Linked DNA regions of Homo sapiens. The main gene of each other region encodes a partner of the protein of the gene in region 2 in a complex. Each region holds a gene or a part of one and is shown on either strand. Other genes may lie near its edges. A codon is read from its position in the direction of its gene.

Region 1 (7,641 bases), about 120 Mb from region 2:
CTCTGCTAGAGCAGAGACAGGTATTCCCAGCCTCAGGCGCTGTCCTAAGCCCAGCAGGTACTGACCCTAGATGGTCACCTCAAGGTGACAGGCACCCACCCAGCATCTGGCCCTTCCCCATCCAAGGCTGCAAGTTCACTTTCCAAGCCAGGGTCTCCCATAGCGGTGCTCACGCCATAGCCAGACAGGCCCCGCTGGCCCCATCCTCTTCATACTTGGTGCCTGTCCCCCCAGCCCCCCCCCGCCCCGCCCCTCCGCATGTGGCCTCACCCCAACCCACCTCCCTGTGCCCTCTCATCCTCAGCGCGCCTCTCCCACTGTCCCGCCTCCCCCAGGCCCGTCTTTCCTGGGGGCGACGACAGCCTCCCTCCAAATCCCCTTCCCTCCAGACAGCGGAGAGGCCGACCTGGGGAAGGGCAGGGTGGGCCCGTGTGACCGCTGCAGATGGAGGAATTCCCATGGCAGAAGTTAAGGGTGAGGACTGGGTGTGGGGGCCCCCAGGTGTGTGGTGGGTATCATCTCTGCCTGGCTGTGCTGATGGGGATCCCCAGCCCCCATGAGGGCTGCAGGTCCTGGGGCGTGGCAGCCGAGGTCTGGACCCAGCGCCCACGTGCGGCAGTCTTGCTGCTCACAGGTGGTGGAGAAAGGACACCAAGGACACAGCCGGGAACTGAGGAAGCAACCGGGCCGGGGGGCCTGCGCTGGCTGGATCGCCCAAGACACTCCAAATCCATTCTCCAAAGCTGGTGCAGGGGCAGGAGGGGAAGGTACCAGACAGAGTGCTGGCAGGGCCGGGGGTGAGCCGGGTGGGGGTGGGGAGGGGCCGTGGGTCAGGGTCTCCTGGCCCCCATTGCTCCAAGGCCGGCAAGGAGGTTGAGCAGGAGGGCTGCGCCCACAGTTTCGGAGCTGCCCCGGGGGCCGCCTGCCCCCTTGCCTGTTGGGTCCTGGACTCGGGAGCTTTGCCAGGGTGGGACATTGCACAGGCTGGACTGGCAGCAGGTCATGGTCACCTGGGTCCCCTCCACCGTCTTGGTGATGGGCTGGCAGCTGTCTGTGCACCACGTGGAGTGGGTGGTCAGGAGGCCTGACTCTGGGAAGGGGAGTGGGGAACAAGTGCTGAGGATGGGCGGGGTCTCTGAGGTGGCTCTGCAGGGCTCTGTTCCGGGCCCCTGGCTTTCCCGCCGCCTGGGGGTGCATGTGCTGCGGCCCCACGCCCACTTACCGGTGTTCCCGTGGGCAATGAGGGTTGTGCAGGTCTGGCCATGTGAGCAGTTCTGCGTCAGGTTGCAGCGCTCGTCCCTGGGCAGGGACTTGCAGGTGTAGCACCGCAGCAGCACTGGGGACAAGGCGGGCTCAGGCCGAGGCCGGGCCCCCCAGGGTCTCCTCCCACGTCCCTGTCCACCTCCCCGTTCTCAGCTGTGCTCCCAAAGCCTAGCCTGGTGAGCCTCCAGCACCCACTGCTCAGATGGGCGGGCGACCCCTGACTTGGTCCTGTAAGCTGTGCTGTGTGCGTGAGCCTGTGTGTTTAGGGGGCAAGGGATTGCGGGTCAGGCAGGGCGAACTTCCCATCATCACTCACGTCCTGCGACAATGCTGCCCAGGCTCCTGCCGTGGTCACAGAAACCTGGAGGTGGGTCTGACTCAGTCCTGCCTCCAGGAGCACCAGGCCTGGCAGAGGAGGGCCTCACAGGGGACACCTCGTGGGTGTGTGGGGCAGGGCTCGTGCTGAGGGCAGGCTTGGGGCTCCTGGGAGGGGGGTGGGCTGTGTGTGGTGGGGCATGCTGGGGGCCCTGGCTAGGGAGGGGCTGTGTGTGGTGGGGCACGCTGTGGTCCCTGGCTAGGGAGGGGCCGGCCCTCGGGTTGGATGCGGCGATTTGCTCTGCTTTTCTCGGGATGGGAGAGAGCAGAGGGTGGCCCACGTGTAGGGGTGTGTCAGGTGGGCAGTGAGGGTGGGCTCTTCTTAGCCCTACTCTGCTCTGCTCTAAGCGGTTCCCTGGCTCCCCAGCCCGCAGCAGCCAATCCAGCCCTCCCCTGTACAGGACCGGCCCACCCTGCTGCTCTCTCTGCCCCACAAAACTGAACCCTACCCTGGGGCCTCTGTGCTTGTGTCTCCACCCTAGGCCCCCACTGAGCCCTTCTCTGCCTGGTGAACTCCTATTTAACCTCTACATCCTGGCACCACTGACCCTCCCAGCTGGTGGCTTCTTCCCCTGTTCCCTACTCTGGAAGGCAACTGAGTGTCATGGTGAGCAGCAGTGAGGGGTGTACTGAGTGTCCCCCACTCTGCTGGAGGCAAGCTCACAGCAGGACTGTGGCCTGCTGGCTTCCATCACACAGCCCCGCCCAGAATGCTCCAGGCAGATCAGGCAGCAGGGCTCTGGGGTTGGGGCGGCCATACCTCTGCTCCTGCCACCAGGGAGCCTGTTGGTCTCCTCCTCTTCCACCTCATCCTCATCTTCCTCGTCGTAGTCATCTGGCCCGTGGTCCTCGTCCTCTTCCTCTTCCTCCTGCTGTGTCTGCCCTCTCCCTGGCCGTGCAGGGATGCTTGTAAGCCTCAGCTACCCGGGTATGGAGGACACCTGCTCTGGGCAAGCATCGTGCCCCCAACTCCTTGGCCCTCCCCAGCCATCCTCGGGCCCCAGGGTGGCTGGGGAGGGCCCCTACCCTGAACACCCTACTCACCCTACTCACTGTCCTGCAGCCTACTCACCCTACTCACTGTCCTACTACCCTACTCACCCTACTCACTGTCCTGCAGCCGAGTGTGCCCTGGCATTGTAGTTACAACAGCAGCTGCTGTGGGCTGGCCCTTTATGGTAGCCCCTCCCCGCACCCCACATAAACAGGGGCGCAGATATTTGGGGACTCTCGGGGACCCAGGCCAGCTTCCATCCATGCTGCTCTGGGCTGGGGACTCCAGCCTCATCCCCTCCTTCTTCCTAAGCCCCTGCTGGGGGTCCCTGGAGGTCCCTGTGCTCCAGGACTGCTGTTGCTGCCCCCTCACCGCAGGGTTACCCTTTGCCCCGCACCTGGCCGCCCGAACAGCAAGAGGGCAAGCAGGACAGCCCCGAGCGCCTTCATCTCGCCGGACGCTGCTGTGTCCCTGACTCTGAGTCCTCCCGCAGGGCTCTGGAGCTGCGGTAAGTGGGATGAAGGGCATTGCCGTGGGCTTCCTAGTGGCCCCCACCAGCTCCAGCCTCAAACAATGGGCCTCACACTGGTCCCCAGCTCCAGGCGCCAGGCCAGGGACTGTTGTTTCCCTCCAGGACATCTGGGGCCAGAGGGGAAGGAGAAGTCATTGTGGTTGGCCTTGGAACGTCCTGTGCACCCGTGCCACGGCAGGTGGAAGGTGGTGCTGGCCCTCGCCTGGCTTGCCGCTCAGTGCCTCAGCCCTGCAGTGCAGGGCAGGGAGCCTCGCCCCGGAATGGGCCATGCCTGACACCCCTCAACCCCATGTCTGGGCTCCATAGTCACAGGACCTTGGGGTCACAGACCCTCTATTTGCTGGTCACTGGCCAAGCATCGTCATCCTAGAGTCAGCATCACACCCAGGCCCCTTTAAGAGCATTTAAGTAAAAACACAGTCAATGCCCTCAAGCTAAGGCTGCGTGCTCACCTCCTCCTCACCCACACTCAGCAATGCACTGCTAGGCCCAAGGCCTCCCGGCTGCCCCTCACTATCACCTCGGGTCTTTGCCCCTGCTGCTCCATCTGCAGTGCTGTTCCTGCTGGTGTCCGGTGGAGAGCTTTCTGGAGCTCTTGGGGGCCCGCCCCCTCGGTCTCTTGCTGGGAAAGCCATCAGCACCCACCTGCCTTCTGGCCTTGTGTGAGAGACGGGCTGCTCTGGGAGAGGCTTGGAAAGCCCAGGTCGCTCCCTGAGGCCACCCCCTCCTCTCAAGACCCCACCCAAGCCCTTGGGGGGTGCTGATGCAGAGTGCAGAGTCGAGGCTCTGAGCTGCCCCTCTCCCAAGGGCAGCAGAGGGGTGGGGCAGCGGCAGGGGCTGGACGTCCGGAGCCAGGGTCAAGCCTGAGCGTCTCTGTGTGCCTTGGTGCTTGGGCCAGGCACTTCACCTACTGAGGCCTCAGTTTCCCCGACTGTCAATGGGTGGGGTGGGGCATTTTCTGGCCGGCCACCTGTAACAGAGGTTGAGTTGGTTCTGGAGTGAGCTACCTGGGTTTAAGACCCGGTTCCTCCTTCCCCCGGCTGTGGGTTCTGGACTAGCCCCTTGGGTTCCCCAGGCCTCAGCTCCCTCATAGGGTGAGGTGACCATCAAGGGTCAGTACCTGCTGGGCTTAGGACAGCGCCTGAGGCTGGGAATACCTGTCTCTAATGTCCCAGCCACCGAGTCAACCATCCTTCCTTAATTCACCTGAACCTGTCATTCTTTCCACTCTACCGGCACCCACCCAGCATCTAGCCCTTCCCCAGCCAAGGCTGCAAGGTCACTTGCCAAGCCAGGGTCTCCCATAGTGGTGCCCACGCCACAGCCGGACACGCCCCGCCAGCCCCAAACTCTTCATACCTGATGCCTGTCCCCCCCAGCCCCGTCCCGCCCCGCCCCGCCCCGCCCTTCCCTGCCCCTCCGCGCGTGGCCCCACCCCCACCCGCCTCCCTGCGCCCTCTCGCCCTCGGCCCGCCTCCCCCACGCCCCGCCTCCCCCACTGCCCCGCCTCCCCCACTGCCCCGCCTCCCCCACTGCCCCGCCTCCCCCCACGCCCCGCCTCCCCCACTGCCCCGCCTCCCCCACTGCCCCGCCTCCCCCCACGCCCCGCCTCCCCCACTGCCCCGCCTCTCTCACGCCCCGCCTCCCCCCACGCCCCGCTTCCCTGGTGCCCCGCCTCCCCCACACCTGTCTACCCCATGCCCCGCCTCCCCCACTGCCCCTACTTCCCGTCGCCCCGCCTCCCCATCGCCCCGCCCCCATTCGCCCCTTCTCCCCAGCGTCCCACCTCCCTGTCGACCCGCCTCTCCTGTGCCCCGCCTCCCCCGTGCACCGCCTCCCGTCATCTTCACCCCTCCTCCCCCACGCCCCGCCTCCCTGTCGCCCCTCTTCCCTGGTGCCCCGCTTTCCTGCTGCCCTACCTCCCCCGCGCCCCGCCCCGGCTACCGCTACAGGCCCTTGAATCTAGTGCTGCAGGAGCTGCTCCTAGGAAGGGCGCTACTGGGATTCTCAAGGGGCCTCCACCTGCCGCCTCCCCTCCACAGGGGCCCAGGCCCTTGCACGTTGCCTCCCTCTGGGCCCAGCTCCTCTTCAGCCCAGGTGCAAACTGCCCAGCCCAGGCAAGTGCTTATTGCGAGAATCACCTAGGGACAATCAGAGCACATTTGATTCGCAGATTGAATTAAATTTAGTGCTCGCCACTGAGAGGCTGTTCCCTCTGTCCCGCCCCGGAAAGGCTAGTGGGTCTGGTCCAGCCCCTACAGAAGGTGCCACCTGGGATGGTGCGCAGGTGTGAAAGGGGACCCGCAGTGGCAGACACCTGGTTCCCCAGCACTGCCTACAGCCGGCAGGTAGGCGTGGTGGGCTCTGTATGTGGAGCCCACCCCCTCATCCCACCCAGGCACCACGCAGCCTCCCTCAAGCCCCCAGGGCAAGGTCATGACCTCTCAGACACTCCAGGGTGAAGATATGATGCCTAAGACCTTCAGGGCAGGGCTGTGGTCCCCCAGGGCCAGGGCTAAGGTCTGGTGGTCCTGATGGCAGCTGCATGGGTCATTTTCGAGCCTGCACCTGCGCCCCTGGGCTCAACCGCCTTTCCAGGCCCAGGCTTCCTCCCTGAGCCATGCGCACACCCCAGGGCACCGTTGAAGGGCAGCCCGGCCACCCCCGCTCCCTGCCCACAGACCTCTGTGCCTTGGGGCCTGGACTTGCCTGCTCTGCTGGCTCGTGGGGCTGGCCCTTCTGACACAGCGGTTCTCTGGGCCTCCTCTCACGGTGGGGCCTGCATGACTCACGTGGCTCTTTTTGGCAGCGGCAGCCTTGGGCTCAGAGCTTGGTGCTGGTTGTGGACAGGGGATGCCTGGCCATCCACACTCCATCCTGCCTAGGTGACATGTGGGGGCGGGGCTCGGCAGGCAGGGTCCATGCTGGCATCATGCCCAGGTGGGGCCATGGGCTCTGCTGTCCTGGGGGGCTGTGTGGCCCTGTCCTGGGCCTGCGCGTCCTACTCTGTACGCCCTCCCCCGTGTTGACACCAGCTCGAGTCAGATCCAGACCTGTGCACTGCCATCTCTGGGAGGCAGCCTGCCGTGAGATTGGGTTTGGAATGAGGGAGGCGTTGGGAGGAGGGCACCTTGGGGCTGGGCCTGAGGGGTGAGCAGAGTTTTTCTATAAGGAAGGGTGGGCAAGTGTTTCTGACTGAGGGGCAAGTGTAGGGTGTCCATACCGGGAGAGTAGGGCCTTTTGGGGCAGATGCAGACTGCAGATGTGCTGGCCCTTGCAACACTTTCCCTGCTCTGAGCTCCTTCCTGCCCTCTCTGCAGCCAACCTTCTCTTGTCTCACTGAACCTGAGTCTGGCAGAGGGAGGGGCTTGTTTTTAGAGCAGAGTCCAGACTCTCCTCCCCTGGGGTTACTCTCCGCTTATTTTTATTTATTTATTTCTTTTGTTGAGACAGAGTCTCACTCTGTCGCCCAGGCTGGAGTGCAATGGCAGGATCTTGGCTCACTGTAATGTTCGCCTCCGGGGTTCCAGCGATTCTCCTGCTTCAGCTTCCTGAGTAGCTGGGATTACAGGCTCGCACCACCACGCCCAGCTAATTTTTGTATTTTTAGTAGAGACAGGGTTTCACCATGTTGGCCAGGCTGGTCTTGAACTCCTGACCTCAGGTGATCCACCCGCCTCGGCCTCCCAAAGTGCTGGGATTACAGGAGTGAGTCGCTGTGCCCGGCTCTCTCTGATTCTGATGACCCCACAGTGCCAGGCTGAGCAGGCTGCCCACCATGTGCACTGAGGTACAAGCCCTTTTTCTTTCCTGGGATCCAGCACTCAGAGGTAGCTGTGGGTGGGCGGGCCGGCCAGGGGGAGCAGCTCCCACGGGTCCTGCAGCTCCCAGGCACCCCTAGAACCCACGAGGGAAACACATCCTGGTTCCAGAAGCTCGTTCATTAACTCGTTCACGTGTGGTTCACTCAGGTACCCTCCCTGGCCTCCCAGCTCCCCTCCATGCTGCTCTGCACCTGGAACCCTCTATGCTCCATTTCCTAGTCCTTAGACACCCTCAGCCCCACCACCATAACCCTGGAGAGTCTCCTTTCCCTTGCTCTTCCAAGGGGGTCCCTCTTGTCCCCCACTTGTGAGGGTGACTGATCTCTGTCTAGCTCCGCTTAGCAGAGCTTCAGATGGTCCTTCAAGCTCCCACCCCCGCTGCCTCCTGCCACTATCCATCTTCGATTTCTAGAGGCAGGGCCCAGGCACCATCCTCTCCAGAGACCTTTCTCCACAGCGGCACTCCTGTACCCACCCCTAGCTCGGTGCCCTCGGAGGGATTCAAGGCTTGGCTTTAACATCCCCCTATGGCCGTACTGGGTCCCCCTCTTGGAAAAATGCAAGAGCAAGGAATACATTGTTCCTATCATTTATTTTATCCGTTTAGAAATCAATCTCCTTCACAGTGAGATTGTTAAAATGTTAAAAACAAT
Region 2 (7,489 bases):
CATAGAGGGGAACAACAGACACTGGGGCCTCCCAGAGGGTGGGAGGAGGGAGAGCTTCAGGAAAAGTAACTAATGGGTACTAAGCTTAATACCTGGGTGATGGAATATTCTGGACAACAAACTCCCATGTCACAAGTTTACCTTTTTAGCAAACCTACATACGTACCCCTGAACTTAAAAGTTTTAAAAAAACTATTTACAAAAGCAGGAAGTAGGCTGGATTTGGCACAAGGGTTATAGTTTGTTGACCCGAGGTGGATGGTTCCAAATGAGCTCTGAGCTCTGTGCTGATAGCCTAGCCCATGCTAATGGCCACATTTACAGGGGAGGGCAGCGAGCAAGGCTGCAAATCCCACACTGAGCACTGGGACCTTGCTGACAATGGGAATTAGAAGCCTCAGACAAATGGATCAATGCAACCCCCTATCAACAGAAACACCAGGGCTCAGGGTTTAGTAACACCAGTCATCATCTCTGTTCCAATGGACAGAATCAGTACATGTGATGCAGTGAGCATGATGAAATAGGACTCCTTGGTTTCCTTATTTACAACAGTCTCCAGCCTACCTTTGTAGGGCATCTGAGAACGAGTCTTCAGGTACATTTTGCTGCTTCTTTTGGCTCTGACTTTATTGATCTCATAGCCCAGATTGTTGCAGCGGTTCTTTCTACAACTCAAGCAGAGCCCTTTCTCAAAGGCTTCCTTGGAACTGCACCTGTAGGCCTTACTTGGATTTTCTTCATTCAACAGAGAGTCGATGAAGAGATGAATGGAGCGCTCGTGGGAGCACTTCACTAGCTGGTCCACATCTGGGTAAAAAAGAGACACCAAGATTGTATCTCGGCAGAAATTCACAAAGAGTGTTTCATTTGGCATGTCTAAAATAGGTGAGATGTGGTGTTAGAGTAGAATCACCCAAGGATATAGTCCTGTGCATTTATGATTGTAGGCCCTATTTCAGGAGATATTCTTGGTGGTAGCGGCCCACCCACCTTCAAGAGAGTGAAAGTTGCAAGTTCACAGGGAATTTTTGACTTTTGTGCTTCTTATATTTATGAGTATGTTTATGAAGCTGTAATAAGCCTCCAAGGTGGAGGTTGATTTCCTTGTTTATCTCATCCTTCTCTTACATTGAAAGTGTCTAACACTTCTAGGTGCTTCTAGAAACATATACCTGCCCCTTGCCTTACAATAAATTCTTCATAAGTCAAAAATACTGTAAGTCAAAATGCACTTAATACCCCCAAAACCCATCATAATGTCAAAAAGTTTTAAGTCAAACCATCACGTGCTTCTCAACTTAAAATGGTGTTACAGCCCAATTGTAAAGTTGGAAAACTGTAAGTTAGGGACAATTTGTATTTCTAGAAACCACATCTTAAGAGGGTAATTGTTAAATGAATTGTATTTTATCATTGATATTATGTACAATTGAGGGTTCTGCCCCTACTAACACTCTTTTATATCAAATGAACATAGAAATAATCAGCAATGCCATAAGAATGAATTCCTTGTAAGTTTTTAGGACAATCGAAAATAGTAACAATATGCTCTAAGTTCTATTACGTGCACAAAAATAACGAGAATATCCTAGGTAGGTCCCAATGTCTATAAAGTATGCAAGGGGCTCTTAAAAATAAATCGTAAACTGGGCGTGGTGGCTCACAGCTGCAATCCCAGAACTTTGGGAGGCTGAGGCAGGAGGATCACTTGAGGCCAGGAGTTTGAGACCAGCCTGGGCAACATTGCAAGTCCCTGTGATTGTGTGACTGCACCCCAGCTTGGGCAATAGAATAAGACTCTATCTCAAAAAACAAACAAACAAAAATCATAAATTTAACACAAGCTAACATTATTAAAGTAAAACATTAAGCTAACATTATGTTCTGAACATTTTGGAAGATTTATCCTAATTAACATCTTCTGTTCCAGTAACATCTAAAATCTTTCCATTGGCTTTGCAGCTACATTCAAGGTATGACAACATGTGGCCAGATAGCATTTTATGATGCCATTATTGAGGTCAGTGGAGTCTTCCTGTCTAAAATCCCACCTTTTTCTCTTGCTACTGTAAGTGCACTGCTCAGTGTAGCCTACAGTATAGTAAATAAAAGATAAAATGGCTGTCTGCCTGGCTCTAAGGTGGTCATGCTGAACATTGCAGAATTCTTCAGAAACATAATTTGGCCAAATGTGTATATGAAAACTACATACTTTGAAGCTACTGAGTAGGACATTGGGTCAATAAGGGTTAAGGATAAGAGTCACATTTAATTCGCTTCTAAATAATATTTACCTCCAAGTCCTCTCTCTGCAATCACGCGGATAGCTTCTCCAATGTTACATCCTGGCTGAAAAGTACCTCCATTCGGGTAAATGTCAACATGCCCAACTGGTTTCTGGATTCCAATGCTTCGACCAGGGGACCCTCTGGTGAATGTGTGTAAGACGTCTACAAAATCTGCATCATCAGGAGAAAGACGACTCGGGGCTTCTGCATACTCAAAGTTAGGTCCAGCTGGATCGAGGCCTTAAAAGGGAAAAAAGCAGGAACACAGATTTGTAAATTTCCATTCGTATGACATTCGCATGTCACTGCTCATCATTTGAATGCACTGGCAGCTATTTAGATTCTTATTAGCTCCTATTCTACAGTCATGGTATCTTTACTTAGAGAGACATAAAAGGAGGCTTGGCTCCTTCTAAAATGAATTTGAGTCTCTTAAACTAGCCTTATGCAGCAGTTTCCACTCAGGATGGCTGGATTTCCTTTTGTAGATTATTTCTGAATATGTCGAGAAGATGTATAAACAGTGGTGGGTTCTTTCTCTCTGTGTGTATGCCACACCTTTGCCTAGATGACGGTCTTCTTTCGAAGTGGCCTCTGGAATTGGTCCTTCTTCTTTTCTCCTAGTACTGATGTGCATTTACACTACTAAAACACAGAGCTGAGAGTGGGAGGAAACAGGCTTCCCAGAGAAATCTGCAGGCATTGTGTGTAATTATGCTTTATTTCTGTGCTATTGCCAGTGGATAGTAAGCCAGTGAGAGCGTCTGTGTTTTTTCTTATCCCTAATAAAGAGCCCTACAATGAGATAATCAAGTGCTGGTCATGTCTCCGGGAAGAACACCACACATGTGGGTATTTAACAAAATTTGTTCTGATTCTCTCTCAGAATGACAGTCTTTTCACCTCTTATGATAAGACCAACGAAATTGCTTTCTTACCAGTAATTCTGTTGACTTTCTTATTGGTCAGACTTCCTGCAATGCCAGCAGCATGGGCTCCAAGGCTGTATCCCAAGAGATGGACATTGTCCAGAGGGTAGTTAAACTCCTCCTTTGGAAGAAAAAGAAAATGAAGGTGCTTACAGTTCTGCCAAAAATAAAACTAAAAGAAACAAAATGAATATAAATATTGTTTTCCAAATATAGGAAATACTGAAAACTAATTCTACTTATTTTAATTTTGTGTTACAGGTAAGAGAGAGAAAATATTCTCTAGTGTTAAAATTGTCTTTTTCTTTTGTTTCACTTTTCCGTAAACAAATCCAGAATTGATTTTCTCTTTCTTTAATAGCAGATTTAAATTACAAAGTTTTTCCATGCATCTGAAATAGTATTATTTATGTATATAATATATGCATATGTTTGTATATGTATATGTATTTGCATATATAACCATATACTATACGTACAAACATATACACATATACATATGCGTATACATTTATATGCATGCATATATGTATATGTGTGTATGTTTGAATGTATAGTATATGGGTATATATTTTCCCATTATTCCTTACTCTAAATATCTGTATCACTTTATCATTGAAGGTTAGCCAAGCAATGACAGACTCAGGAAACATTCAGTGGAAGGGACCAGAGGTACATGGTCCAGCCCCTCATTTAACAGGTGAGAAGCCTGAGCCCCAGGGAGGTGATCCCGTTTGCCCATGTTCATTTGCCTGGTCAGCAAAAAAGACAAGAAAAGAACTTTTGTCTTTTATGATCAGTCTAATAAACACAGCTTATTTTTTACTTCCAATTACCTGGTTAAAATAATTTGCCTTGGTCAGAGTATCAGCTTCTTTCCAACCCCAAGATACTTTTCAGAGGTACTTCTCAAGGGATCGTGTGAAAAAGTGGGTCTCTTGCAGCTAAGTCAGAACTCCAGACCTCAGTTCCCTTCTATCCTATGCACCTTCCCTTCCAACATCTTCCTAGCTCAATTCCATCACTCTCCCAATGCTCAACAAAAACGTTCATCCTATTTCACACTAAAGAATAAGTACTATTAATATTTTCATGAAAGAGATTGGTATGTCAAGGTGAGGATAAGATGTCCACAGGCCAGCCAACTGGTAGGGAAGGGTCTGGCTGAACATGCCATCTTTCCTCTGTCCGAAAATCACAAGCTTTTTTCTGTTGGGCCCACTTAGTTATTGGTCTCAGCAGATCTATTCACTGTGAAAATATCAAACGATAGAGCAGGGCAGGACTATTTATTGGCCTTATAGTCTATTCTTATCAAAATGTTGCTTTTGGATATAAAATAATATCCACGCTGATTCTGAAGATTTGAATGCCCCCAGAAAATATTTAAATCTAAGAGAAAAGGAAGAAAGAACAGCCGGTTTTCTGGCTCCAGTCAAAAACACTGTTTTGGACACATAAGTCTCCTTCTCCCAGTCTTACCTCCATCCAGTTGATAAACCGGGCCACATCCTGTCCCACCAGTTTGGTGTAGCCCGCGGACACTGGGTAATGCTCCTGAGCCCGTGACAGCCAGTCCACCACAATGACATTGGAGTCTGGTTCTCTCTTGTACAGGGCGGCCACAAGTTTTGGCACCCAACTCTCATACATTCCTGTTACCTGAAGATGATGACACAAGCTTTCTTAAAATACCCACCTACCACTTGTCATAGATACATCAGCCCAATACACCTGCATGAAATGGAAAAAACAAACTTGATTGGAAACCCATTGGCACAGATAGAAAAATCAAATAACAGAACAGTGTTCAGAGACAGGTCTGTCCCTTCCAAGGCAGATCTAAGTAAGCCAGGAAGGCATTGAGTTGAGTTGAGGAACGGCAGATTGGGGTTCACCATGCTTCCCATTTAAAAAGTATATTTTAGACATTCAATAAAATTTTGATCATTTATACTATTAAAAGGAAAGATTGGTCTGAATGCAAAGTGGGTCTTTGAGGAAACTAGCAGGAGCACCTGGCTAGGAGCAGAACCCTGTTGAATTGGTCCAGTCCCACTCACCTTCGCCTCCCTTCAAGGTTGGGGTGTTGGGCACCCTTTGTAGTTGGCTTTCAAGATCAGGAGAGGTTGATGTCATTTCTTCAGAATGTAATGTTAATGTCTCCCTGTTTCAGCCAGGATCCCCTACTTCACAATGGGAACCCTGTACTTAAAGCCAGTGACATCCAAGCAAGTGGCAAAGCTCCAAGATAGCTGTGTCTAAGCAACCTGCTGGGATGTATCACATGCATGCTACATGCTAAGCATTCCTTTGGGTGTCTCATGACACAGCTGGAGAGCCTCCTCATTTCCCTTCGTCTGTGCCTGTGAGTCCCCAGGCAGCTTATTTCAGATAAGGCAAGAAAATCGGGTTTACTCTAGGCCTCTATCAGAAGTTTTTCTGTACTACCAGTGTTTCTCTTTTCTTTGTTCTTCCTTCCTTTCTTCCTCCCTCCCTTCCTTCCTTCCTTCATTCCTTCCTTCCTTCCTTCATTCCTTCCTTCCTTCCTCCCTCCCTCCTTCCCTTCCTCCTTCCCTTCCTTCCTTTCATTCCTTCCTTTCTTTCCCTCCTTTCTTTCCTTTCTTTTGGCAGAGTCTTACTGTCTCGCCCAGGCTGGAGTGCAGTGGCATGATCTCAGCTCAGTGCAACCTCCGCCTCCTTGGTTCAAGCGATTCTCCTGCCTCAGCCTCCTGAGTAGCTGGGACTACAAGCACATACCACCACACCTGGCTAATTTTTTTGTATTTTTTTAGTAGAGATTGGGTTTCCCCATGTTGGCCAGGTTGGTCTCAAACTCCTGACCTCCAGTGATCTGCCTGCCTTGGCCTCCCAGAGTGCTGGGATCACAGGCATGAGCCACCGCTCCCAGCCCAGTGTTTCCAAGTTAAGCAATCTAAAAAGGCTGGACATCCAACTTACTCCTACAGTGGCTGACATTTTTATTAACCGAACAATAGCTAATTGAATCCTTTCTTTCTGATCAACATAAAATACTGATGTAAGTAATCCCAAACAAAGCAAATGAAAAATCTAAGTACTCACCTTTCTCAACTCAAAAAGGGTCTTATTCTAAGTTCTTTCAATCTGAGTTTTTCTTCTGAGGTTCAATAATTACTATGTTTTAAATCTTTGGTTTTCAGACACGCAGCTGAACTGAAGCCCTCCCTGCTGCCTATACCAGGTGGGCCACCTGACCCTGCCAGTGAGTTCACTGAGATAATCAAGATCAGTGTGGCTGGCTTAGTTCTTGCACAGACCCAACTCAGTCCCACAGCCAGACAGCAGTCTCTGTGCTCAAGCACTCAAAATGTCAGGACACATGATGTGAAAGATACAGGTGGGCTTAGTGAGGCAGTAGGACCAATGATAGGAAGTGGCACCGTCTGTTGATATTGGGTTGGTCATGTCATCTTAGTATGAAAAAGAACCATTTTTTTCCCACAACTTCCCAAAGTATAAAATTCTCTCAGGGATAAGATTGAGATGACTGAGATACTCAATTTATTTCTGTTGTATAAATGCGTTTATTAAGCTCAGATTTTTTGAAAAATTTTAAAATCCAAGTTCTGTATATAACCAAAGGGCCTCTAAAGATTCCTTTTTCTGGGCCAGATGCAGTGGCTCTCGCCTGTCATCCCAACACTTTGGGAGGCCAAGGTGGGTAGATCACTTGAGGTCAGGAGTTCGAGACCAGCCTGGCCAACAGGGTGAAACCCTGCCTGTGCTGAAAATATAAAAATTGGCCGGGTGTGGTGGTGGGCGCCTGTAGTCCCAGCTACTCGGGAGGCTGAGGCAGGAGAATCTCTTATGCCCAGGTGGCGGAGGTTGCAGTGAGCCGAGATCGCGCCACTGCACTCCAGCCTGGGCAATAGAGTGAGCCTCCATCTCAAAAAAGAAAAAGATTCCTTTTTCCTACTTACACCTATTAAAATATTAAAGGATTTATGTTTAGGAATTTGAGATTTTATCACAAAATATTGAATTTACTATGTTAACATAGTAAATGGCTATATTTTGTTAAACATCTGTGTGAATTCTGTTAGTAGTAGTCTCATCTCTATAAAAATTGTAGCGATTGTCCTCTTCAGTCAATAACAAAGCCACTTAAATTATGTAGGAAAAGAAATGTGGACTAGATGAATGTTATTTTTAGTTAGTTCTCACTAGAAATTAGTATTATAATATTCACAAGCTCTGACATAATGGATAGATAATATATCTTTAACA

The links. The genes of interacting proteins can lie anywhere in the genome.
Region 1: the proteins of LPL (region 2) and GPIHBP1 are in contact, whole or in part, in a crystal structure (PDB 6OAU), measured with the Homo sapiens proteins. Residues at the interface, in NP_000228.1 of Homo sapiens: Tyr367, Gly368, Thr369, Ala371, Glu372, Glu374, Leu403, Met404, Lys406, Lys430, Lys440, Ile443, Cys445, Ser446, Arg447, Glu448, Val463, Lys464, Cys465, His466, Asp467, Ser469; in NP_835466.2 of Homo sapiens: Cys68 (codon at 1,316), Lys69 (codon at 1,313), Ser70 (codon at 1,310), Leu92 (codon at 1,244), Ala94 (codon at 1,238), His95 (codon at 1,235), Gly96 (codon at 1,232), Asn97 (codon at 1,229), Thr98 (codon at 1,226), Glu99 (codon at 1,223), Ser100 (codon at 1,088), Leu103 (codon at 1,079), Thr104 (codon at 1,076), Thr105 (codon at 1,073), Ser107 (codon at 1,067), Trp109 (codon at 1,061), Cys110 (codon at 1,058), Thr111 (codon at 1,055), Asp112 (codon at 1,052), Ile117 (codon at 1,037), Lys119 (codon at 1,031), Val121 (codon at 1,025), Glu122 (codon at 1,022), Thr124 (codon at 1,016), Val126 (codon at 1,010), Met128 (codon at 1,004).

Annotation. Positions count from the first base shown.
Region 1 is NC_000008.11:143,208,708-143,216,348, reverse strand, and holds the start of GPIHBP1 (glycosylphosphatidylinositol-anchored high density lipoprotein-binding protein 1 isoform 1 precursor), read right to left. Parts: upstream 3,132-7,641; 5' UTR 3,082-3,131; coding exon 3,030-3,081; intron 2,528-3,029; coding exon 2,399-2,527; intron 1,337-2,398; coding exon 1,223-1,336; intron 1,091-1,222; coding exon 831-1,090; 3' UTR 1-830.
Region 2 is NC_000008.11:19,949,162-19,956,650, reverse strand, and holds part of LPL (lipoprotein lipase precursor), read right to left. Parts: intron 4,883-7,489; coding exon 4,703-4,882; intron 3,342-4,702; coding exon 3,230-3,341; intron 2,532-3,229; coding exon 2,298-2,531; intron 811-2,297; coding exon 568-810; intron 1-567. UniProt on the Homo sapiens protein: Key enzyme in triglyceride metabolism.